5 separate regions of the Homo sapiens genome follow, and regions 1, 2, 3 and 4 are each linked to region 5. The links come from fine-mapping of genetic effects on plasma protein levels. A gene starts in region 5. Each other region holds a variant in brackets. All regions are shown on one strand. Distances are between the middles of the regions.

Region 1 (5,112 bases), 320 kb after region 5:
ACAGACAAGAATAGAGAAAAATGAATGAAAAGGAATGAACAAATCCTCCAAGAAATATGGGACTTCATAAAAAGACCAAACCTATGATTGATTGGAGTACCAGAAGGAGATGGGGAGAATGGAAACAAGCTGGAAAACACATTTCGGGATATTATCCAGGAGAACTTCCTCAACCTAACAGCCAACATGCAAATTCGGGAAATACAAATAACACCATTAAGATGCTCCACAAGAAGTTGAACCCCAAGACACATAATCTTCAGATTCTCCAAGGTCGAAATGAAGGAAAAACTGTTAAGGGCAATAAGAGAGAAAGGCCAGGTCACCTACAAAGGGAAGACAATCAGACTAACAGCAGACCTCTCAGCAGAAATTCTACAAGCCACAAGAGATGGGGGGCCAATATTCAACATTGTTAAAAAAAAAAGAAAACAATTTTCAACCCAGAATTTCATATCCAGTCAAACTAAGCTTCATAATTGAAGGATAAATAAAATCCTTTCCAGACAAGCAAATGCTGAGGGAGTTTGTTACCACCAGGCCTGCCCTGCAACAGTTTCTGAGAGAAGCACTAAATATGGAAAGGAAAAACTGGCATCAGCCATTGCAAAAACACACCAAAATATAAAGACCAATGACACTACGAAGAAACTGCATTGAGTAGTGTGCAAAACAACCAAATAGCATAATGATGACAGGATCATATTCACACATATGTGGGGCATGGTGGCTCATGCCTGTACTCCCAGCACTTTGGGAGGCTGAGGCAGCTGGATCACTTGTCAGGAGATCGAGACCAGCCTGACCAACATGATGAAACCCCATCTCTACTAAAAATACAAAAATTATTTGGGTGTGGTTGCACACGCCTGTAATCCCAGCTACTCAGGAGGCTGAGGCAGGACAATTGCTTGAATCCAGGAGGCGGAGGTTGCAGTGAGCCAAGGTTGCAGTGAGCTGAGGTTGCAGTGAGCCAAGAGCGTGCCATTGCACTCCAGCCTGGGCAACAAGAGTGAAACTCTGTCTCAAATGAATAAATAAATAAAATTCACACATAACAATACTAACTTTAAATGTAAATGGACTAAATGCCCCAATTAAAAGGTACAGACTGGCAAATTGGATAAGGAATCAAGACCCATCAGTGTGCTGTGTTCAGGAGACCCATCTTACATTCAAAGGCACACAAAGGATCAAAATAAAGGGATGGAGGAAAATTTACCAAGCAAATGGAAAGCAAATAAAGCAGGGATTGCAATCCTAGTCTCTGAAAAACAGACTTTAAACCAACAAAGATCAAAAAAGACAAAGAAAGGCATTACATAATGGGAAAGGGAACAATTCAACAAGAAGAGCTAACTATTCTGAATATATATGCACCCAATATAGGAGCACCCAGATTCATAAAACAAGTTCTTAGAGACCTACAGAGAGACTTAGACTCCCACACAATAATGGTGGGAGACTTTAACAACCCGCTCTCAGTATTACACAGATTAACAAGACAGAAAATTAACAAGTATATTAAGGACTTGAATTCAGCTCTGAATCAAGTGGACCTAGTAAACGTCTACAGAACTCTCTACCCCAAATCAACAGAATATACATTCTTCTCAGCGCCACATGGCACTTATTCTAAAATTGACCACATAATTGGAAGTAAAACACTCCTCAGCAAATGCAAAAGAACTAAAATCATAACAAATATTCTCTCAGACCACAGTGGAATCAAATTAGAACTCAGGATTAAGAAAATAACTCAAAACCACACAATTTCAAGGAAATTGAACAACCTACTCTTGAATGACTCCTGGGTAAATAATGAAATTAAGTCAGAAATTAAGAAGTTCTTGGAAACCAATGAGAACAAAGAGACAACATACCAGAATCTCTGGGACACAGGTACAGCAGTGTTAAGAGGGAAATTTATAGAACTAAATGCCCACATCAGAAAGCCAGAAAGATCTCAGACTGACATACAAACATCACAATTAAAAGAGCTGGAGAGGCAAGAGCAAACTGATCCAAAACTAGCAGAAGACAAGAAATAAATCAGAGGAGAATTGAAGGAGATAGAGACACGAAAAACCCTCCAAAAAAATCAACAAATCCA[G/A]GAGTTGTTTTTTTTTTTGAAAAAATTAACACAATAGACTGCTAGCTAGACTTATACAGAAGAAAAGAGAAAAGAAATAAATAGACACAATAAAAATGATAAAGCGGATATCACCATTGATCCCACAGAAATACAAACTACCATCAGAGAATAAACACCTCTACACAAATAAACCAGAAAATCTAGGAGAAATGGATAAATTCCCAGATGCAAACACTCTACCAAGACTAAACCAGGAAGAAGTTGAATCCCTGAATAGACCAATAACAAGCTCTGAAATTAAGGCAGTAATTAATAGCCTACCAACCAAAAAAAAAGTCCATGACCAGACAGATTCACAGCTGAATTCTAGCAGAAATACAAAAAGGAGCTGGTACCATTCCTTCTGAAACTATTCCAAACAACTGAATAGGAGGGACTCCTTCCTAACCCCTTTTATGAAGTCGGCATCATTCTGATGCCAAAACTTGGAAGAGACATAACAAAAAAAAATAAAACTTCAGGACAATATTCCTGATAAACATCAATGCGAAAATCCTTAATAAAATACTGGCAAACCAAATCCAGCAGCATATCAAAAAATTTATCCACCACGATGATATTGGCTTCATCCCTTGGATGCAAGGCTGGTTCAACATACGCAAATCAATAAATGTAACCCATCACATAAACAGAATCAATGACAAAAACCACATGATTAGCTCAATAGATACAGAACGGCCTTTGATAAAATTCGACATCCCTTCATCATGGTAAAACTCTCAATAAACTAGGTACTGGTGGAACATATCTCAAAATAATAGCTATTTATGACAAACCTACAGCCAATATCATATTGAATGGGCAAAAGCTGAAAGCATTCCCTCTGAAAACTGGTACAAGACAAGGATGCCCTCTCTCACTACTCTTATTCAACATAGTATTGGAAGTTCTGGCTAGGGAAACCAGGCAAGAGAAAGAAAGTAAGGGTATTCAAATACGAAGAGAGGAAGTCACGTTGTCTCTGTTTGCAGTCAACATGATTTTATATTTAGAAAACCCCATCATCTCAGCCCAAAAACTTCTGGAACTGATGAGCAACTTCAGCAAAGTTCTGTACATGTATCCCCTTTTGTTTTAAGAAGAAATAAAGGGGGGAAAAAAGAAAACAAAACAAACTACCAAGAAAAAATATTTAAAAAAATGTTTTTTAACTAGGTTTATAATAGATCCATTTTCTCAGTTTGCCATGCATTTAATTCAAGTTAATGGAACCTATAAATATTTTTATAGAAATTTATATTTCTAGTAAGCTTTCTTCATTATGGAATTCCATGGAATCATGTAACTCTCTTTTATAGCACTTATCACTGTGTAATTTTAGTTTTTTGAATTATTTATTAATTGTCTTTTCCACAATACCATAAGCTCAATGAGAGCCAAGGGTCATGTCTGCTTTTAAGCACTATTTTCTCAGCACATGGACCATTGATTGGCACAATGTCAGTGCTCAGTGAGTGTGAGTGAATGAATGAACTTTTCAAGAATGCAGTCATTCCATTATTAGTTGAGTACAAAGACCTGACTAAGAAAGTTAACTTACATAGTTTAGTTTTTAAAATTTCACTTAAGTGTTTAGCCAAATGCAATTTGTTACATCCAAAATGTCAGTATTCTGCCACCTATAAGATAATTCTACTTATTTTTCTCCATTACAAAACATTTCTAAAACTAAGCCTACCCTACCATTTTTATCAGTGATACCAACGTTTGTCAGCACCCGTGTGGTGGGTGGAGAGACAAGATAATGAGCTGGCTGGTACTACTATAGTGAAATGAGCAATTTCAATAACAGGTTTGAAACTCACATCAGATACTATGCTTTAACATATTAATATGATAATGATCACACATTTATTAATCCTTCTGGTGTCACTCATGGCTTTGAGTTATTTATATTCTTAAAATTAATCTTGTAAAAAAACTGCAATTTGGAGTTCAGGAGGTGAGATTAAGTAACTGTTCAATGTCAGACAACTGGCAAATTGATGCCTGCATACACTCTCACATCTGTTTGTTTCCAAAGCTCTTGCTTTTAACATCTTGTTCCAGGCACCGATTTAGAAAAACACTTGAGATATCAGACACCATAAGGCTTTTATTCAGAGATGAGGTGCTAAATTATTCAGATTTTTAAAAATGTAATTCATTCACCAGTACAAACTTCCATTCCCTAGGCTGAATCTGAACTAGGCAGCCTATAGACTAAAACCTACTTTTACCAATCTTGCTCAACAACGCCCCCCTCCCTACTCCAATAATGTTCCTTTTTCACATTCTAGAAATAGCTCTGGTCATCTCCAAATATCTATTTGAAATACAGGTCTATTGCATACATTTGTCTTCCCTTCCAAGGACAAAGCCCATGTTTCTTCAAGTTCAAATGTGACTCACCTCATTCAGAAAGTCCTACCTGATGAATGTTCCTCCACAATCATCTTCCCTTTCCCTCTTGTTTTTTTCTCTCAGCATTTCTCATTATCAGGAAATTCATTTCTTTCTATTTATTCGTTTATATACTCATTATACGTATATATTCATTGAGCACCTGTTTGATATGTGGTAGTGATATAAGTGCTAGAAAATACAGTGGTGGCCAGCACAGTGAGGTCCCTTTAGCTGTGAAACTTACAAGACAATCTGATGATACTAGTAAACTAGGGGTATTTACACCTAGAGCCACAAAGAGTACCCAGATGGGGCTACTTTAAATTGGGTGCTAAGAAAGCCTCAATAAGGAAGGAATGTTTAAACTGAGTAGAAAGAAGAAGCCAACCTGTGCAGATATGCAAAGTATTTCAGATGTGAAGTATGAAGACTCTAAAGTAAATAGAAATTTGGTTTGTTTGAAATACATCAAAAGGCTTTTAGGTATGGTTTATATGGAACATGGTGAGTGAGGAAAACAGTAGTAGAAGATGAGATTGGAGATAGAAGTAATGGCAAGGAATCTTTATGTT
Region 2 (5,112 bases), 370 kb after region 5:
GGAGCTGTCTCAAGCCCAGGAGTCCTTGGTATTCTCTCATTCATAACAATGCACAGAATTTCCAATCCTGATTATCTTTCCATTTTATTTTAATTTTTGATCCTACTCTAAATAGTCAGATGCATTCAAATATATCTTAAAATTCATTCATTATTTTAATTTAATCTGAACAGAATACATAAACCAGTAGTGTGTTTTAAAAATATAATTCTAGTGCATTGTCTTAGAATAGTGTCAACACAACTACTCAGTAGCTCTTTACTGTGATTATATAACATCGATTCAAGAAGTAAAAGGCTGGACTGGTGCAATGGCTCACGCCTGTAATCCCAGCACTTTGGGAGGCCAAGGTGGTAGGGTAGTTTAAGCCCAGGAGGAGTTCAAGACCAGCTTGGGCAATATAGGTGGGACCTCATCTTTGCAAAAATTAAAATTAAAAAATTAGCTGGGCATGGTGATGTGCATCTGTAGTCCAGCTACTTGGGTGGGAGGATTGCTTGAGCCCAGGAAGTTGAGGATGCAATGAGCTGTGATTGCACCACTGCACTCCAGCCTAGGTGACAGAGTGAGAACCTTGGATTCTGCTGTTATTTATGAAAATGAGGCTCTTATATGCAGCACCTTATTGTTTCCTACTCAAATTTTTAAAAATTGTCTTTGATAGGTTTCTCAAAAATTTCAGAATTCACACTTGAAGTACAGGGTATTTGATAATGTGTTTCTTTCTGCAGAGTAGCCAGATCAAACTGATTGCAACCACAGAGCTCTGGAGGAACAGCAAATGAGCTGCCTTGTCACTAAAGATGGTAAAACTTTCAGAGAAAAGAAAAATATTCCATTCTCAACTGGCAAATTAAATGTTATTTTAATAAAGTGCAATGATACAGAGTACACAATTCCCAATCTAATTTCACATGTTATTTATTTAAAATAATATGCATTAGCACAAAGACAAATAAGATTTGTCTCAATGAGAAACTAGTACAGATATAATTCCTCTCCACTTTTGACGCACATATCATTTTACGGCTAAGTAAGCAAAACCTTCAAATTTCAATAAGGCAAATAAATTAACTTTGCACAAGTTGAAGAGGGAACATTTTATGCGGGAAATTATTTCTAAGCTTGAAGATGGAAGAAGTGTGGTTTCTCTCCAATATAATCTCGTTTAACCAAATATAGGTCCTAGGAAGTGTGTGTGTGTGTGTGTGTGTGTGTGTGTGTGTGTGTAGAACTAGCAAACAAGAGCATATAGTATCTTTCCCTATACAATTAAATAAACTGGGGCTCATCAAATATGTGTTTAATAATGTGCATGAGAGACAGGTTTTATAAGAGATGGTAAAGAAGGAAAATCATGCCTAAAAGAACAAGTTTTAATATTTTATCTTTGTGGAATTTGTTAAACATCATGATGTCAACATTCAATTCTGGTAGTGTAACCTTTCCTGAAATTAAGATTTAAGAGTATTTTTTAGCATTACTAAAAAATTAGCATTCAATGACTCAAATTATGATGCCCAGGCTAGCAGCAAGAGCATCATCCAAGGACTTAGAAATGCAAATCCTCAAGCTCCACCCCAGACCTACTAACTCAGAAACTCTGGGGGTGGACCTCAAGAAATCTGTGTTTTAATGAGCTCTTCAAGCAATTTAGATGCATGCTAAAGTTTGAGGACCCCTGGTCTAAATCAATTCCTCACAAAACAAGAGAAATTTGATGTATGTAACCAAGATGTTCAGGGGCAAACACATGAAATTATGCTTCGGTAACTTACTTAAGTTTGCCACTGATGCATTTTCCAGATGCTTTCGAGTCCTATCTATTTATTTTACTCCTTTGACTAAATTAAAATGCAATTTATACAATGCCCTATTTGTTCCACTTTTGCTATAAATTCAAGCTCAATTTTATTTTGATCTTTAAAACTGGTCTTGACCACATTCAAGGTAACTCCAGATCAATAATTTGAAGCTCAGTGTTGTGACACTCTTTGCCAATCTCACTTATCATAGTGGTTAGTTCTACCTTGTCTATTTATCAAACCAAGTTCCTACTTCTGAAGCATGTATACTTCATTCTTATTTTTCAATTTCTTATCACAGAGGATACAATGTCCACCCAAGCATGTGCCTCTGACTACTCTCTCCTATTCTGCAAGGGTGCAATAATTATTAAGCAAACTAGTCAGAAACTAAGTCATTGAATAGGCCATTCTTCATCAGGATGCAGGAATACTACTGGTGTATATGAGAGTAAACATGGTTGGGTAGAGGGACAGATTGTGGCAGAGAGGGATAGGAGTGCAGTAGGAAGCACCCAGCAGCCTGCCAAGTCTAAGTTTAATGCTACTTCTCAGCCAAGCCTTAAAGGTGGTGGGGCATCAGGTGCTTTCTTATCAGAGAATCCCAGAAGGAAGAAGAAACAGTGGATTGAAAGGTCCTTGTGGCCAGCCATAACTATCTATGTCAATTGCTCTGAGATAAACCAGCAGTTTATATGCTCCATTTGTCAATATTTGGGGAACTCATTTTACCCTTTGTTTGTATTTCCAAATGTTGGGTTCTGTTTTGGACCATCTC[T/C]TGTGGTACAAAACATCTCTATTATGCTTCCAATATTCTAAGTTCTGCCTTCCTCTCAGATGATGAAAGAGAGTAAGAAACTTCACTTACTCCATGCCCCATTAAAAGTCATTCTAGTTCTAACTCTAGCTCTTAGATCTTTCTTTATAGTTCTGCTGTAGTTACTCTGTCAAAGCCTGGTTCTATTGTGAAACAGAATAGTCACTTTACTCAGCAAATGATATCAGACTAGAAGAGATCTTTGAAAATGTTGCACTTTTGAGTTTGAGTTTTCATCATGATAGACCATCTGGATAAAGAGAAATTCAATAGAAGACACACTTAGAATAAGAGAGCCATCAAAATCTTCTTTGGAAGTTACTTTTGGCTTAAGGCAGTTTTATGGTTGTTGGCATCTTGAGAAATTTTGGTATGTATTTATACACATTCATAAACGCAGAAGCAGTATATAAGATATATAGCCAGCATCTTGGATTTTAATCAGGAGTTTCCAAGTAAAGATTTTAGGAGAAGTCCCTGACTATTTAAAAGACACAATAAATAATAAAAGAAACAGATTTTTAGCAGAGAAGACTCATTTATTCCATAGACATTAATAAAAAAAAAGGCCAAAAAAAACCCACCATTTGCTCTTCTCTTCTCTTTCTCCTGTCTCTACTTCTTTTTTCTTTCTGTCTCTCCCTGCACTATCTTACCCTGTGTATTAATCGCTTCAGTTATAGACTCCAATGCACATTACTTCCCCATCTATCATTCTTCTCTGTTGAGCTCCAGGTACACACCATTAGTGGGTACCTATAACCAGGTGTCTCATGGTCAACTGAAACATAATCCAACTGCAAATGACTCACCATCACTGTGCCCCATGCCCTTCACACAAACACACATGGAACATGCTCTTCCTTCTACATGCCTTATCTAAGCTAAGGAGACTGCAGTTTCCAAAGATAAAAATATTGGAATTATCTAAAATTCACCCCCTTTTAAATAAAAATAATAAATTTGTTATTGATTTTTCTTTCAATTCCATAATAATTCTCAATTTTTCTCCTATTCTTCCCCCAATGCCATTGTATTAGTTTGTCACTCATTACAAATTTCTTGGATTACTAAAATAGCTGCTTAGTTGGTCTCCAAGTCTCCATATTTCCCTTCAGTCCATCTTCTGTATCACTTCTTGAGATTTATTTTTACCAAAAATAAAAATAAAGGTCATTCTGTATCTAAGAGCCTCTAAGAATTCCTTGCTGTTTCCAAGGTAAAGTCTACTTGAGCTAAGCACATAAGACCCCTTACAATTTGGCTCTAAAATCTGTTTTCTAACATTTGCTGTTTCTCCTTTGCACCTCCATAAATGCTAAGTCAAACCATACAAACTTAAATGTTATAGAAAAATACCTTTTATGCTTTTTTTGGGGGAGTGGGAGGTGGTGGGATGGAGTCTTTCTCTGTTGCCCAGGCTGGAGTGCAATGGTGCTATCTTGGCTCACTGCAACCTCCACCTTGCCTCAGCCTCCTGAGTAGCTGGGATTACAGGTGCCCACCACCATGCCCAGCTAATTTTTGTATTTTTAGTAGAGACAGGCCTTCACCATCTTGGCCAGGGTGGTCTTGAACTCCTGACCTCGTGATCCACCCCCTTTGGCCTCCCAAAATGCTGGGATTATAGACATGGGCCACCACGCACAACCCCTTTTATGCTTTTGTTTCTTTTTACAGTATATGTTTTTTCTCTGCATAGAATATCTCTTTTTTTATCTTACTGGTATGCAGTATCTCCACTATGACTTCTCATGTGGCATGTTAGTTGTGTGTTTGTGACTCTTTGCTCATTGAACTGTGCTCCCGGAAAAAAGGATGATGAGTATAACATAGTTATCTAGCAAATAATGGACATTTAATTTCAGTGAATGAATAAATGAATCAATATAAGGCAACATGCTTAGTAAGTATACCTATAAATAAAAATCCTAGTGATGTTTGAATAAAGTTGATAAATGAGTGAGTAGTAAGTTGTATATATTTGGGGAAGGACTACAAATCTGGAAAGATACCAGTTTTCTTCTCATTTACTTGCAATGTAAAGGAAAAGTTATTTTCATGCTTAAAGTATACCATGTTTGCCATTTTACATCTCTGTTGAAAACTAACTCAAAAATTTTGTCCGAAATTTTCCACATCTAATATCAAATCAATCCTCAATGTATAATATTAAGGACAGGTCTTTTAAGTGAAGTATAATGTTGACTATCAGCCAAACAAAGAAAAACATTTTTGGATCTTTGATGATATTAAGAAATAACTTGTACTGGTATTACAGTTACATTAGATGAGAATCCTTAAATTTTAGAGATACATGATGAAAACACACATATGACCTGTGAGATGTGCTTCAAAATAATGCAAAATGGTGATGTAATTAAGAATGTGGACAAGGCAGGTTTATCCACAGGTTAATGGGTGTATTAGTCTGTTCTCACGCTGCTGATAAAGACATACCTGAGGCTGGGTAGCTTATAAGGAAAAAGA
Region 3 (5,112 bases), 240 kb before region 5:
GATTTGGTAACTGTGGTTCAGAAAGGTTAAAAAAATGTGCCTATGATCAACAGCTAGTAAGCTAGAATTTTAACTCAAGCAGTTCTAGTTCTAAAGCCTGCAATTTTTGCCATGATACCAGTGCTTCCTAAACTTTTCTTGTGATAAGAGTCACCTAAATTGTTTATTAAATATAGAGGAAATTTTGATTCAGTAGCTCTGAGTTGGAGCCCAATTATCTTTATTTCTACTTAACCCAATTTTAGTAAACACTGTGTTGGATGGTGCTGCTACTCCTCTACCCCTGTATCTGCTGTCAAAGGGTCATGTTTCCTCTAATCTGTCTTTCCAGAGCTCCTGGCTCCTGCCCATGAAAAAAAGACTGCTATGATTTTTGACTTCCCTTCTATCCTTTTTGAGGTTGAGACTAGAGTTCTGCCTGGAATAGAATTGCATTGGATACAAAAGGAAAAACAACTTGGTTTCCAATAAATTTCCTGTTCCCTTCAATCTTCAATACTTTCTGTCCTTGGATTTCTGTTGGCTCCTGTATTTCTTGCTTTCTCAGATTCCAGCTGGCTTTCACATCTTTCCCTCCCCCTACTCTGTGTTCTTGTTTTTTTCATTAGCTCTGAGCTCCTCCAAGTCTTCTGGCTTTCTTTATGCTTATTCACTCTGTGCTGTAACTTTCCCTGACCCTTTCTTCTTTCTGTGTCTATCCCCTTCCAAGTTTAGCTGTTTGTGTGTGTGTGTGTGTGTGTTTCATTTTACTTCCCCTAATCAACCAAGGGGCTAGACCGTGCACACCCATAACTTAGTGGGTTACTCTCATATGACCCATGGTTTTTAAAAGATATAAAGCAAAATTGTGTATTTGGAGGCTATCATTTTTATAGAAATTCAGATTTGAAAGGGATTGTCCAGCCTGCTTAAAGCCCTAATAATGAAAACAAAGTTTAGAATCCCAGTTTCCCACCACTGTTCTGACTATGTATTGTTAGTCTACGTAGTAGTTGCAAATTATCAGCCTAGGTGAGCCCAATATAACCCCTGAAATATTTTGTTTAGTTGAAACTGCAGTTAAAATATAAGTAAACTTGAATGCCTTTAAACAGAATTTGCACTATTAATTAATATATTTAGCTTCCTCAGGAATCAAGATTATCTTCCTGTGATTATAGATGTTTGGTTTTATGATCTTTCACATGAACAATTACATAGGGATATTTAAATGAGACCATTTCTGAACACTGGATTATTTTTCTGCAGGGTGGAGCCTAATCATTCATTATCATTCAACAAGCAGGAAATTATCTTTAAATTGCCAGAAGGTTGCCATCTTCCCTTTTGGACAATCTCCCTTTTTCTAAGTGATCAGAATTTAGTCCTAAATGAAAACTCAGGTGTTTTTAATTTCTTCTCTCAGATATAGCCATATTTATAAGCCAATTTTTACATTTTTTCTTATAGAAAATAATACCAATTAGTAAATGTTGTTCCCAAAACATTCATTCCAAAACCAGACCATAAAATAATTTTATGTGAAGGTCATTTTTAGAATTATTTAGATTCATGGAGGTTTTTATTTTTAAAATGTTTCTCCCCCCATATAGTTTATATGACTGCCAAGTAATAACAAGGATAGAAAACCTCTGAAAATTAAATAAGTAAATAAACAAAAGCTGTGGTTTCTAAACAATAATGAAGGGACCGGAGCTGTGAGTTCCAAACACATTTTTAATACAAGGAACTGAGGTTTACTTTCCTGGTTGAGAGAGCAGAAGAGCTGGGTTCTGGCACTCCGACGCTAGCAGGGCTGTAAGTATCACTGTGGAAGAGGAGGGACAAAGTGTTATGAGAAACAGAACGCCTAGAGCTTCTATCTCAAGGGCATGACCCAGACCACATTTTCATTCTTCATTGCTGTGTTCCTTTGAAAGTTCAGTTCTCCATTCTGCTGTTTATTTAGATCATGTTAATTTCTTTTCCCTGCAATTTTTTCTTGCAATTCATTTAAAAACACAAGCCTATAAACTTGTTTTAATTCAGCTTAATTCAATTAGTGATAACAATA[G/A]TAATCTTTGTGGTGAAGGTGGATGTGAGGGTCAGGTGGGATTTGGATAGAGAGAAGGCATTCCTGTTCAGAGTAAGATGATTGATGATTTTGGTGGAATTGACAGAGCAAAATCATGGGAGTTATTCATTTAGTTGTGTGTGTGTGTGTATACCTATAAAACTATAACTATTATCTATATTCATCCATCTATCTAATCTATCACTTTACAAAAATAATTTTAAGACCCCATAATCTTATAAATTGTTTTATACATTTTTTTTCAAATTTGATGAGTTTGGAGGTTCACTCACTTTTTACAAGTATTAAGACTATTTCTTTTGTATCCTTCACCTCTCCCAATGGCCAACCTCAATACTTTTGAAGTACTTGGGATACCCATCCTTGTTTTCTTCATGTTCCCTTTTACAATATGGTTGAATAGAATGAAATATCTCTTTATTAAATGTATAATATTAGCACTGGTATGTTGAGGTCTTTTTAAGGGATGTGGCTATATTTTATTTAGTTTTCTGTTATCCCAAGGACATAAACACTTAGGTCTTCATTAAATGTTTATAGAAGTAAATATAACCAACATTTCTGGTATTAAACTTTAGGTGATTTTAGCCAAATTAACTGCCTTTCTGATTGGCAAAATATGTATTTAATTACATCAAATATATCTTTGAGTAGTAAAATTAGTAGCTTTAGTTCTTATTTATTCTTTTTCATGTTAGACTATAATGCCTACTTTTAAATCCTGGTGGTGTTTTTAGAAAATTTGAAAGCCTATTTGTTCCTTTTCTTGGCTACTGTTGTAAAGATCAGAGAAATTAGATTCCAACTTTTCATTTCTTTTCCATATCTGTGTTTCTATTAAGTTAATTCACACAGTGCACAATATGCATGTTCACATGACTCTATTTTACAGGAGAAGGAGTAGAAACATTGAAGGATGTAATGATCCCCTCAGGGTTAAGCAGCTTCTCTGTTGCAATGTCTAAGCTATGGTCTCCGGTTTAGGATTCAGTGTTCGGGCTCTTTTTTCCACCAATAGTAAGTGCCTCAAATGTCACCTTACACTTATAACTTTCCAAGTCACGCTTCCTTGATTTTGTGAAGTAGAGAAATACAGATGGCAGAAAACTTCAACTACATAAAAACGCCTTTAACACAAGTTTTATTCTATGAAATCTGCATTTCATAAAGTCTTTTTGGTGAACTTTATTAAGAAGCAATAGGGTCTAGGAAGCTTGGCAAACAATGAGGCAGGAAGCCCCAAAGAGAACATGTCTGTCAGACATTTTTCCTTCTGAGTTTTCCTTCCAAATGTTTTTGGATCTTGAAGGAAGTGGAGTGGCTCTCTGCCACCACTTTCATACATCTGTAACCCACTGGGTGTACAGAGTCTGGCATTCACTTTTTAAATTCTCTACTCAATTTCATATTTATTTCACTGTGAAATAGAAACTGATCATAGGTTAATGTTGAAGTCAAAATATGAATCTTATTTTTGTTAGACACAATTTCCATTTTTGAGAATTTTGATGTAAGGGCTGATAACTCCTTAATTTTTAAAATGATATGAGACAGTTCAAACCTTGCATTTTATAGAAAACTGTGGACCTGGTCAAATGTTAAAGCTGAGAGTAATTTAGAACTCTGCTTGCCTAGGTTTTAGGACTGTGTCTAAAAGACAATTTCAAGACCTTGGAGAAACAGATATAGTTACTCAGGGTTTCACTCATGAATGTCTACTATCACTTAGCCCCCATTCCCTTATGACCGTATTTTAATATTTAATTTAATTCTGCTAAATGTATGTTCTAGAAAATATTGAAAGGAAAACTTGAGCTAAAAAAGATGGAACATAAAGCTTGCATAAATACTCATCTCTAGAGAGCTGGATCCCTTAAATCTACTTGCTCTTTGAAGAATTTGTACAGATGTTGACCTTTTGATGGGAAAGATATAGTGATAATTTATTAAATAAAATGTCAATCATTTGTCTTAATTAAAAAGTGTTATATAAGGGCAGTAGTATTATTTTAACATACTTGCTGTCAATTTGCAACTTACATCACATGGGACAAATGAAATAATACACAATATACAAAATACTACATTAACCATTAATAGAGTATTATTAATAGGAATCTGGAAAATTATATGATTAGAATAATACTAACTCCTCTTTACCAAGTAGCAAAATAATTTCAGTGACTTTGCTGAAGGCTTTACATAATTTTTGAACTCTTAGAGTTTTGCAAAGAAGATCCTGTTATTCTCACTTTCAATATAAGGAAATGGAGGCTCAGAGAGTTAATAAAACCCACTCTAGGCCACTCACCTGGTAGAGGTACTGGACTTTAACTTACACTAGGTACCAAAGCGTGAATGTTTTTCACTGCATAATGTCAGTCTATTGACTAGTAGGAACTTAGGTTATAATAATACAATTATTTATCTAGTACTCATTGGAAGATAACTTTTTTCTTTTAATATATTAATTAAGTTCTAGATTAAGCTATCACTTTAAGGAAACAAATTGTAGTTTGCTACAAATCCTTAGGATGAAGTAGCTCAACTTCTATCATTAATTCATGTTGAGACCCAACATTCACAGGCTGAGGTGGAAAAACCTGAATGAATCACTTTTCTCTCAGAGACATGTTATTCAGACTCTGTAAAGTTATTCCATAGTGGTTTTTTTTTTTTTGAAAACTTTCATGACCTTCTCCTTTTGTTCTGTACATGCCACACCACCAAAACTCTTGTAAGCTTTATAGGCTATTTCTGATACATGCATCCTTTCTTAGTTCTTTAGAAAGTAGCTCAAAATCAAAGCATGTACCATTGACTCAAAGTCATCAAAAAGATCAAATTTGTGTAAAATGTATTACTGCATTTATACCAAATATTGTGTAATGTAAAATTCACATACATAATGAAAATTCTTGGATAACTTCTGTTGGGAAATATATTTACTTTGCTTCAAACCACTGAATATTTAATCTTGTTTATAAGAGACCATCTGAAGCCATAGTGTGTAAAGTATAATGCAATAAATGTAATAA
Region 4 (5,112 bases), 560 kb before region 5:
AGAGGCTGCCATTATCTGTATCAGGACCTAAACCAAAACATTTTCTTGAGGTATTCACATTTTTACACTGAAGAACATATGAATATTCTTTAACAATTTTGAAGACATTCTTACTATTTGGCTACCTGCACCATGGAAAGTTTTTCTATGATTGTTTCAAGCAATACTTGAGAGTATTAATAGTAGTGACTATTAGGGTAGTTGTTATTGAAATCTCTTTGTAAATATTATATTGAGACAAAGACACTGTTTAAGAGAAACCTGCCATGTATTGAAAAGATAGATATCCAACTATCTTTTTTATATTTCTTTCTGTATCTTTTTTGTAATATATGTGGATACATTTCCCAGATCTATCTTCATTAAATTTTTCCCTTCAGCTGTGTGAAATCGGACCATTTATTGATTGATTTTTTAAAAAATTGGTGTTCATAATTTTATTTCTATTAAATTTTTATTAATTTTCAAATCCTCCTGTTCTTTTATCAATGTCCTGCTTTAAAAAATTATGATTTCTATTTCTTTTGTTGTGGCTTTACCATTTTAAACATAGTTTTAAAAGTTTACTTTGGATGGTTTTATTCCCTCCAGTTTGGGGATGTGCAGTACTTCCTGCTGTCTTACTTGACAGCTCCTGCTCAGTTTAGATTGCTTCCTTATATGGTTTGTAGTTTTTGATTTTAAACTTTTCTTTAATAAGTATTTTCTCCCTGTGCAGAATTCTGTGGACTCTAGTGCTTAAAGGGAAGCTATTAATATGTATCTATGCTATGTTTGTTCAATTGGTTTAAAACAAGTTTTTAATATTGAGACTTGGGAATTCTACCACTAACCTTAAGGACAGCAGAGTACCATGAACTATTTAATTTTATTTATTTATCGTATCGTATCGTATCATATCGTATCGTATCGTATCGTATCGTATTGTATTTTTTGAGACGGAATCTTGCTCTGTTGCCCAGGCTGGAGTGCAGTGGCGCGATCTTGGCTCACTGCAACCTCTGCCTCCCGGGTGCAAGCAATTCTCTGCCTCAGCCTCCTGAGTAACTGGGATTACAGATGCCCGCCACCCTGCTAGGCTAATTTTTGTATGTTTAGTAGAGATGGTTTCACTGTCTTGCCCAGGCTGGTCTTGAACTCCTGACCTCGTGATCCACCTGCTTCGGCCTCCCAAAGTGCTGGGATTACAGTTGTGAGCCACCATGCCTGGCCTTGTTTTAATTTTTAAAGGAGAATTTTAATTTATTTTTCACTTATATCCTTAGGCCAAATCAAATATTACTTCACTAGGGGTTATTATTTTATCTCTCTCTTCAATTGCTCAGAGGTCCCCCCTTTATTTTCCTAGCTCTCTATAAGGATCTCAAGTTCAACATCTATCTTCATGTAAGTCCAAGGTAATATTCATGTCTCTATATGGACAGTTAATCTGCATCCCCTAGAAATGCGGCTTTTCCTGAGCCTGATAACCCCCTAAACATCTATTGAGTCATTTTGTAAATTATCTGGTTTTACATTTCTTCTTTGTTGTTGGTGCCTAGGAATTTCTCTTATTTTCCTTTAAGCTCATCTGTATATTTCACTTCATTATTTTGATTACATGTGATTTACTGTTTACTTATGTAGCAAGAGATGTGCTTTTTTACTACAGTCAGGTTGTAAGAACTGTACTGAAAAATAATAATAGAATTTGTTATTGAACCAATTCCTTTATTTACTTTTGAAATTTGTTGTTGAACCAATTCCTTTATTTACTTTATTTATCAATGTATATCTTCCTTCCCATCCTTGATTTCCTTTATTTTACATTGACCCCATGTAGAGACAACCTCATAATTTCAGATCCTGTCCTACGTGAAATCTATGTCTATGTAGAGCCTTTCATTTCTTTTCACCCACGAAATTAGTCTCTAGATGTGCCTAGGTACTTACTGTATAATTTTTTACCCTATAATTTAAAACTGTGTACATAAAATACTTATGGGGTGAGAAGGTATAAATCCTTCTAGCCGAAAGAAATGTAATTAGTGTTTCGGCATATTTGAGTGTGTCGTTGCAAAATACTGTTCTCTAGGTTAGTGGTGTGGTTTGGTATAAAAGAAGTAATAGAAATGTTCATAACAGAGACCCAGGATATAAAAGTCCCTTTGTGTTTTTCATTACAAGGTCATTACTTGCCATTCTTTACAAAATAAACATGAAGAATTGTTTCCAGGTTCTAAAGTTCAAGAGTTTTTGGACAAACTTAGTAAAATGGTAAGTGAAATACTTAAAGAACTGTAACTGAAAAGCAAAAATTTAAAGATGTATATTTTCATAGCAATAGAGATAGGATTATTATTTCTAAAAGCTTAAAGTGTGTCTAAACATTTCCATTCAAAAAGGTTACAGTAAATTTCTGCAACTTTACAATTTATATAACCAAGAGGTGGCA[G/A]TGTTCCATCTAGTTTCCTTTGGAAACTCATTCTCCAGAGGTAAAATTTTCAGATGTATTCTAATTAACTTTTAAAACAATTGACTTTTATTAAATTAATAAATACTACTATCACATGTACTTAAAATAATTATAATTGAGTAGCATTTTTTGAGTATAAGAACATTAAAGCATTACTGTATAGAATAGTTTGATCTGAACAGCCAAAAATTAGACATTTTCAACATCATCATATGGGTGTTTTACATCTAAAATACTTTGTTACTAGATTGTCTCTTTGGTGTTCTACTCTGTCTTTAATATTAATTAATTTATTTTGTAACACTATGAAAACAGTGATTTATCTTCATGTCTAACTAGTTAATAAGGGGAATAGTTTGGATTGAGAGTTCGTAACAGACAATATAATTTCATCATTATCTTTCAACATTTTCTTCAAGAAGAAAATAATAAACATTTATGAATATTTTCATCTATTGAAAATACATACAAATACAATCTTCAGCTATTAGTATTACAATGAAAGCAGCTAACATAAATAATTGAAACAGATTTCAATCCCAAATTCCAAATCTGTTCCAGAAAATCTTAAATGAAAGCTTATTGGAGGCACAAATTCTCTTTTACAAGTATGTCCTGGCAATAATTGACTTAACAGTCAATTATTACAAACAAAATCCAGGTTTCTTAATTAAAATACAAAATATTGGCTCTCCTACTTAGCCTGAAATAAGTTATGTCTTAAGGAGACTGCAATTATGGTGGCGCCTTCTAATGCCACTGATGGTCAGAGCCTGTCAGTGTTTGTATAAAAACTAATTTCTTTAGAGGTTTGCAACAGTGCTGTGGATTGTTACTTCCTTAGCAAAGGCTTGGCATCAAAATTCTAAAACAGAAGTTTAGGGATTTTTTTTGAGTTTGGTCTGAACACCAAAAGACTTTCATTTTTACTCTCATAAACGTGGAAAAAGTAAATTCTACCATTTATTATAATTACATTTTTGAACTTGAGAATTTTATCTTTAAATATGTATATAAAAGTTATGAATTGGGTATATTTGGCAAATAATACTAAATATAAATTAATGAACCACTCATAGCAAATTTGAAACAAGTTTTAAACAAAGCCTTTACATATTTGAATGATAGCTATTTTTATTTGGTAAGCCCAAATAAGTTTTTATAATTGATTTTATCAAAATGAATAAAATGCATTTATTTTTCACTTATCAATGTTAGTGACAAAGTCTTTTTAAATGACTTATTTATTCATGTAAGACTCCTTAACCAGCTAACTTAAGAAAGACTTCTAGGACAGAATAGGTTACACTAGTTATAATTTTATCTTTCTTCTACTCACTTGCTTCTCAATTGAAAGAGCGGAAATGACAGTCAAATTGTCTACGGCTGGTCAGTGAGACTTGGGAAGAGAGAGAGCAAAAACCGTGAACTGATTTTTATACCTTGGATTCATACTATGTTTGCTTACTTCTATGTGTGTTTCTCAAGGAATTTAGTGTTGTTATAGGTCATATTGGCATAAGAAAATATCCTTTAGTAGATAAGCATTTTGACTGCTATGTATTAAACTGGAGAATGCATTTTTTTAAGCTGTGTTGTCATATAAACTGTGTAAAAGTTTATATGGACCAGTCACAATTGTGACATACATTTCTTAGACTTTGATACAATATTAGTAAAGTAATAAAATATATGAATAATTATAATGTTAATTTAATAGTTGTCATTGCTTATAGATGGTTTGTAAATATTTTTAAGCAAATTTATAAATTTCACTCTATGAATATTCATTCTATTGGACATCTATATATCAAACACTGTTCCTATAACACTGAGGCAACAATAATGCATAAGAAGAAATTTCCATCCTTCAAGAAGTAGTAAAATATTATAACACTTGACACTTATTATTTATTTTGTGTCAGGACCCATGCCAAGTCTTTTTATGTTTATTAACTTATTTAATCTTCATAAAACCCTAAGTGATAGCACCTGCCATTATCTCCATTTTACAGATCAGGAAACTGAGGCAGATAGTGCTTATACAATTATGAAATGGTGGAGTGAGATACAAATTTAGTCTAGTTCCTGAGCAGAGGCTTTCAATTGTTGTGTTATTTTGCTTCTCCATTTATAACAAGACAGACGTACTCTTTTCCAGATGTTCTGGTTGAAAATCAGTCTTAGGATATGTTTTGCATGATGGCAATCAGCTCCTTGGATAATCACCTTCTTAGCTCCTTAGATACTGTGATTCCATAGTAAAATTTTTTTGGAAAATGCTATATACTACACCTCCCCTTCACTACCATATTTTTAAAAATCTAAATGTGCAGTAGCATGCTAAATGTTTTGGGCGATCTCTTTGTAAAGGTATGAAAATTATACACTTCTCCACAGTGATCTGAATAATGTGACAAATGCTAAGATAGTGATTACATTTATGAAAGAATATTCACATACTGCATCCTTTAATGATTATAAAAATCTTCTGAAATATTTCTTATTAATATCCCTTTTTTAAGGTAAAGAAACCGAGGCAGATGTGTTAAGTGACATTTCACATGTAACAAAGCAGACAGTAGCAAAACCAGTGCTTGAATCAGTTCTAATTCAAAACCCAATGCTCCCAATTATGTAAAGTAAACGTCTCCACT
Region 5 (5,112 bases):
ATCTGGAAGGTCTCAAGCATTTATCGTTTCCCGAATGATCCATGCTGTCTTCTACCTCTGCATACCTACTGTCTGATCCCTGATAAGTATTTTCTTTCTTTTTCTTCTGGAATAACCCTTTTTGTTGTTTAAAACTGAACACAATCATTAGCTATTTTCTGGAAACTTTACTTGAATTCTATACTCCCCTTTTTCCACACTCAAATTGAATTTGACATCTTCCATCCATTTACTAGAACTGTGGGGATCCCGCAATTACAGATTTTACTGTTCTGTAGTGTATATATTCATGTGCCTGTCTCCACCACTGGATTGTACAGCTTTACCCACAGACATTAAGGATAATTTATAACTGTATTTTTGTCACCAAACACAGTGATGCAGTATAGGTATTCAATAAATGAATATTGGCTTATACCCAAGTTATTAGATGTTTATATATAAGATATATAAATAACTGATAACATCTAAAAAATAATACCTTCCAGATATTTACAAGTTACTTTTGCTAGAGGAGAAATCCAGCAAGTTTTCTAAAAACAATCAAGAAAATAGCAATGTTAATTTAATATGTTACGCAAGTTAGTCAAATTGATTCTGCAAACATATGAAGTGACACTAGCCAAATCAATTAATAGAAAAAAATACAGGGATTGAAATTGTGTTACAGAGACAGTTGTAGTAACTGTCATCAAGAGAGTCAAGCTATAACTAAATAAGAGCCAAATTATTTGAATTTTTAAATGCTGTTGTTAATTATGAATCACCTGTGACAATGTAGAGTGATAGGCTTCAAGTAAGGGCTTGAAATCTCTCTTTTTTTTTTAAATCTTACCTCTTTGCAAATCTCATCTTATAAGAAGAATCCAAGACAACTGATTGGACCATGTGTACTACTTGCTGGGTCACTGCATTTGGAGATTAGGCCCATGGGTGTAGCTTGGTAACATTTTTCTTGCTGAGGGCTGGAGTGGAAATGGACATATCAGCTTTCTGTTTTCTCATGTGTTCATGGACAACCTCATCTAGCCAAGCCCTTGTACTCCTTATTTGGCTAGCCCAAAGAAAGAAAAAGAGGACTCTTTTGATCCTAGCACAAATTTACTTGGTCAAATCCAGTTTTCCAAAGACCCAGAAATAGAAATTTGAAGTCATAAACTCAACTTATAAGAAAATGGTATTTTATTTGCCATTAATCATTATATCTTGTGAAAAGCCCCTTCAAGAATCTTATAAGTGATAATATCCCAGATATATCATCAAAACTTCATCAGTACTTCAGAGTAATAATCACTTAGAAATACTACATGTTGTCTTCCCCAAATATGTTTTACTTCCTTTCACATTTTCAGTTTTTAATGTTTTACTTCCTTTCACATTTTCAGTTTTTGGTTGAACAAGCTTCTTAATAGATTATTTTATAGGATTTTCCACACTTCCTACTCAACAAAATATTGACTCAACTAAGAAAACCACCTCAATGATTTGGTCCACAAGAATCAAGAATGTATTACCTCTCCAAAATCTGTCTTATTCATTCCAAACTATGACTTGTGGTTTTGTATTTAACCTAGGATTTTTCAAGAATTTTCCTGTAATACTCAATGAAAAATAACTTCTATTTTTAAATTAATAAGATGGATAATGCTGCAAATTATATCAGTGTTTTAAAGATGTATGGGGCTTATTATCCTACTAAATGTTCTGAGATTTTAAAATTCATTGTTTTCCACATTTCTTTACCAACAGACATTTTCCTCATTATAAGACCTATTTAGATAATGTCAAACAAGCATTCTAAAAAATATAATATGGGAAATGTTGGTACAACATATCAAATAGTATAATTTTAGTTCTAACAATGTTAAGAAGTTATTTCCCTCCTTCATGCAACCTGGTGTCAAGTTAATTTAGAAGTAAAAGATGAAAATAAGAGGCCATTGCCTTTTCAACTGAGGTCATAATGAGTCTGTAATGTATTTTGTGAGCTTCATTATATTGCTGCCTGATCTATAAAAATTAAAGTTTCCTATATTTCTCTTTATCACAAAAAAGAACTAAAGAAATATTAACAATCTTTATAAAAATAAGAAAATATTTTAGGAATAATTACAAAAAGCAAAATTATGGAACAATGGAAAAATATTACTTAAACAAAAGAAAAACTGAAAATATAAGGGATTTCTCTCCTTCTTAACTTGTTTCCTTGACTTGATATGACTCTCCTTTTATGTTCGATACAATTTAAAGTAAACTTCTTTGCTTTCTGGCCCATAATTATGCCTTTATTCAAGTATATATTAGCTTAAACATAAAATGCCATATTTTTAAAATTACAATCTAGCTACAGTTACAATTATTCCTTTTCTGAATTCAGTTTATAGATTCTACCAAATGCTAAAGAAGATATAAAATATTCTCCAGTCACACATCTAGCAAATAGATTCATGGATTCTACATTAAATAAAAATAAATTATTTTTCATCAACATCTTATAATACATTCATCGGATCCAATACAAGAGAAGTAAGTCCACACTTGAGTTCTAGGTCATAAAAATTAATGAAAATATGAAGCATTCTGATATGGTGTTAAGTGGTTTTACTTCACTAAATTACTTCTAGTTAGCAAATATTAACACTGTAGGTAAATTGAATGTTTTAAATTAATCTTATTTTTGTTTAATTTCAAAGCAAAATAAATAAAATAGATAACAGTTTGAAATTTTTCATCTTATAACTTGTAAATAGATACTGGAAGGTTTTATTTTTATTTCTAAAAGGTTCTAACACATGTGTGAATTCCATTAATCCTAATAAGTAACTCAAAGTCATTGGGTCATTCTATACAATAAAACAGAAACAAGCTGAGAGATTAATACAATTTTCACATGCTGCATTATCTATAGAGTTAGAAATAAGTGAGTAAAAGTGAGTGTACATTTTTGCAAGAAGAATAAACCATGTTAAAGCATAAATTTGTAATTTACTTGGTACTTCATATTATAAGCCCCTGTTAAGCTTAAGTGTGATGGTATTCAGTTTACAAAGAATTAGTATTATGAATAATTCAGATAAACCAGAAGCACCATTCACTTACCCAAGAAAATAAACACTATCATGCTGGACAACTCACGGCAGTTCACCTGGAAAAAAAGGCAGATGCGTTTCTTCTGACAACTTTCTTAAGAGTAACTGTCCAGAATAAGGCTTCAGCCTCTGTGTTTGCTTCCTAAAGGCATTACCAATTCAAGTCAGCTTCCTATATCATCATTTCCTCCCCAGTGTTTCCTAAGTTGTGAACTGTTCTAATTATATTCAAATTCGATTATTCTCCTGAGGGTGCTGGTCTTGAATATTAGGATATTATGCCTCTAAGAAAGCCCATGAGCCAAATACTAAGAGAAATGATACATAATCTGCACGTTCATGAAAAAGGTTTATTTTCCTTAACTAAAATACAACACTACGTAAAAGCCTCCCAAATATGACCCAAAATTTTCAAAGACACTTGAGCATACTCAGTCTCCACTTGTTTAATTAGCCTCATTAAGGCAATTTCATGTCATTTGAGGATATAGAAAAGCTAAAAACGCATAATAGCCCTGGAAAATGTATGCAAAATCGAAGTTCTACTAGAATTAGCCTGATATAACTCAAACATACTGGGAAGCTGCTTCCCAAACAAAGAATGTTGTATTACATGTGCCACAAACCCCAGTATGCTTAAAAATTATGCCACTTCAGCTACAGTATCTGATACCTTCCAAGTACAGCTACAGTGTAAAAAACATACTCTTCTCAGTGATGCAGAAATTCTATGTTCCACTGGAAAGATAATCATCTACATTTGTGTGCATCACTTGACAACTATTTTTTTTCCTAGTTTCAATGAAGGGACTTATTTATCTTATGCCTTGGTTTGGCTACGCCCTTCCTCATGTAAACCTACAGCACATCATCTTTCTTGGGGTGTCATGAGACTTCTATTTCTAAATCACCTGGAGGCCTTTCTAGAATGAATGCTTAAAAAATAAAATGCTGCTTTGGCAAGAAATTAAGAAGAGATAGGGATGGGAGAGAAGTATTTGTGCAGTTACACCATTGAGTTTTTGATTGCATATTGTTCATGTTTATTTTATACCAGTAGAGAAGTTATACTATATTTTGTTTTCAGCAGGCATAATGAAAAAACACAGACTCTAGAGTCCAACAAACAAAAATTATAACACTGCTTTTCTCTATAGATCTAGATGAGTGACTTAGCATTGGAAGTTATTCACTCCTTTGTAAAATGTGTCAATTGTATTAATTCTTGCTGTAATATAAGGTATGTATATGAGGGGCTTATATCACAAAAAAATTGATTATATTACATTCACTGACTTAATTATTACATAATAGAAGGATTATAATATCATAAAATTAATCAATCTTTTCTTCTTTTCAAGGGATTGAGTCACTAAACTTTCCTAATGACTTCTACCAAGACAAGCTTAGATATAAGCCAACTTAAAAGGACTTAAACTAGGACAGAGTTGGTTACTACCATAGTTGAAGAGTCCGTGGGAAGAATTAATTTCAGGTGTGTTTTAAACTGTTTTCTCTGGGTCTAAGTTGTTTGTTTCCTCCTGTCTCTTACCTGCATTCTTCTCTACCAGTTCTATTCCCAGAAAGGCTATTTCCTTCTGGTGGGAAGATGGCTGTGAAGCCCTTGGCAAACATCCTTCTCTCTTAGAAAGCAGGGTAGAAAGTGTCATTCTTTTACTATTAAAGTTGCAGAATTAAGTCACATCAGTTCTAGATGTGTCAAGTGCCAATCAATTTTACAAAAGGAACTTACCCCATGTCCAGTATCATAGATACAGGTTGTCAGTGTAGTTGGCCCTTTTCAAAGCACAGAATCTGATGGTGCAGAAGGTGTGCATCACGAAGGAAAATTATGGTATTAGAAGAAGCAGCTGAAGGGATCTTGGGGCAGCAAAAACCACATGCTTAGTAATGTATCTAAGTGCTGAGTTTAAGAAGAGCAACCACAAGGAAAATAAACTTATGAAACAAAGGAAGAGAATAACATAATTTTCTGTTCAAGGAAGGCGATATAGTTATGACT

Which allele goes with the higher level. Alleles are on the strand shown, and positions count from the first base shown. The strength of an association depends on the size of the effect and on how common the allele is.
For the plasma level of the protein whose gene starts at base 3,207 in region 5, A is the high allele of the variant in region 1 and G is the other (weak association).
As copies of C replace T in region 2, the plasma level of the protein whose gene starts at base 3,207 in region 5 goes down (moderate association).
In carriers of allele G in region 3, the plasma level of the protein whose gene starts at base 3,207 in region 5 tends to be lower than with A alone (moderate association).
For the plasma level of the protein whose gene starts at base 3,207 in region 5, A is the high allele of the variant in region 4 and G is the other (moderate association).

The links. PIP is the posterior inclusion probability: the model's chance that the variant is causal. The UK Biobank Pharma Proteomics Project read protein levels with antibody pairs (Olink). The fine-mapping took linkage between variants from a reference panel, not from the people measured, so its PIPs are less certain.
Region 1: its variant is fine-mapped to the plasma level of the GFRAL protein (UK Biobank, PIP above 0.99).
Region 2: its variant is fine-mapped to the plasma level of the GFRAL protein (UK Biobank, PIP above 0.99).
Region 3: its variant is fine-mapped to the plasma level of the GFRAL protein (UK Biobank, PIP 0.93).
Region 4: its variant is fine-mapped to the plasma level of the GFRAL protein (UK Biobank, PIP above 0.99).

What each region holds. Positions count from the first base shown.
Region 1 is chr6:55,002,999-55,008,110 of GRCh38, reverse strand. No RefSeq gene overlaps it. Among named protein-coding and RNA genes, the nearest start is that of FAM83B, 160 kb to the right of the region's middle. The variant G/A (reference allele first, on the strand shown) is at 2,114.
Region 2 is chr6:54,951,271-54,956,382 of GRCh38, reverse strand. No RefSeq gene overlaps it. Among named protein-coding and RNA genes, the nearest start is that of FAM83B, 110 kb to the right of the region's middle. The variant T/C (reference allele first, on the strand shown) is at 2,584.
Region 3 is chr6:55,564,483-55,569,594 of GRCh38, reverse strand. The region is part of intron 1 of HMGCLL1 (3-hydroxy-3-methylglutaryl-CoA lyase like 1); the gene reads left to right. Among named protein-coding and RNA genes, the nearest start is that of HMGCLL1, 12 kb to the left of the region's middle. The variant G/A (reference allele first, on the strand shown) is at 2,054.
Region 4 is chr6:55,883,705-55,888,816 of GRCh38, reverse strand. No RefSeq gene overlaps it. Among named protein-coding and RNA genes, the nearest start is that of BMP5, 11 kb to the right of the region's middle. The variant G/A (reference allele first, on the strand shown) is at 2,435.
Region 5 is chr6:55,325,564-55,330,675 of GRCh38, reverse strand. GFRAL (GDNF family receptor alpha like) reads right to left here and starts at 3,207. Exons shown (of 9, transcript NM_207410.2): 1 at 3,100-3,207. The coding sequence starts at 3,121.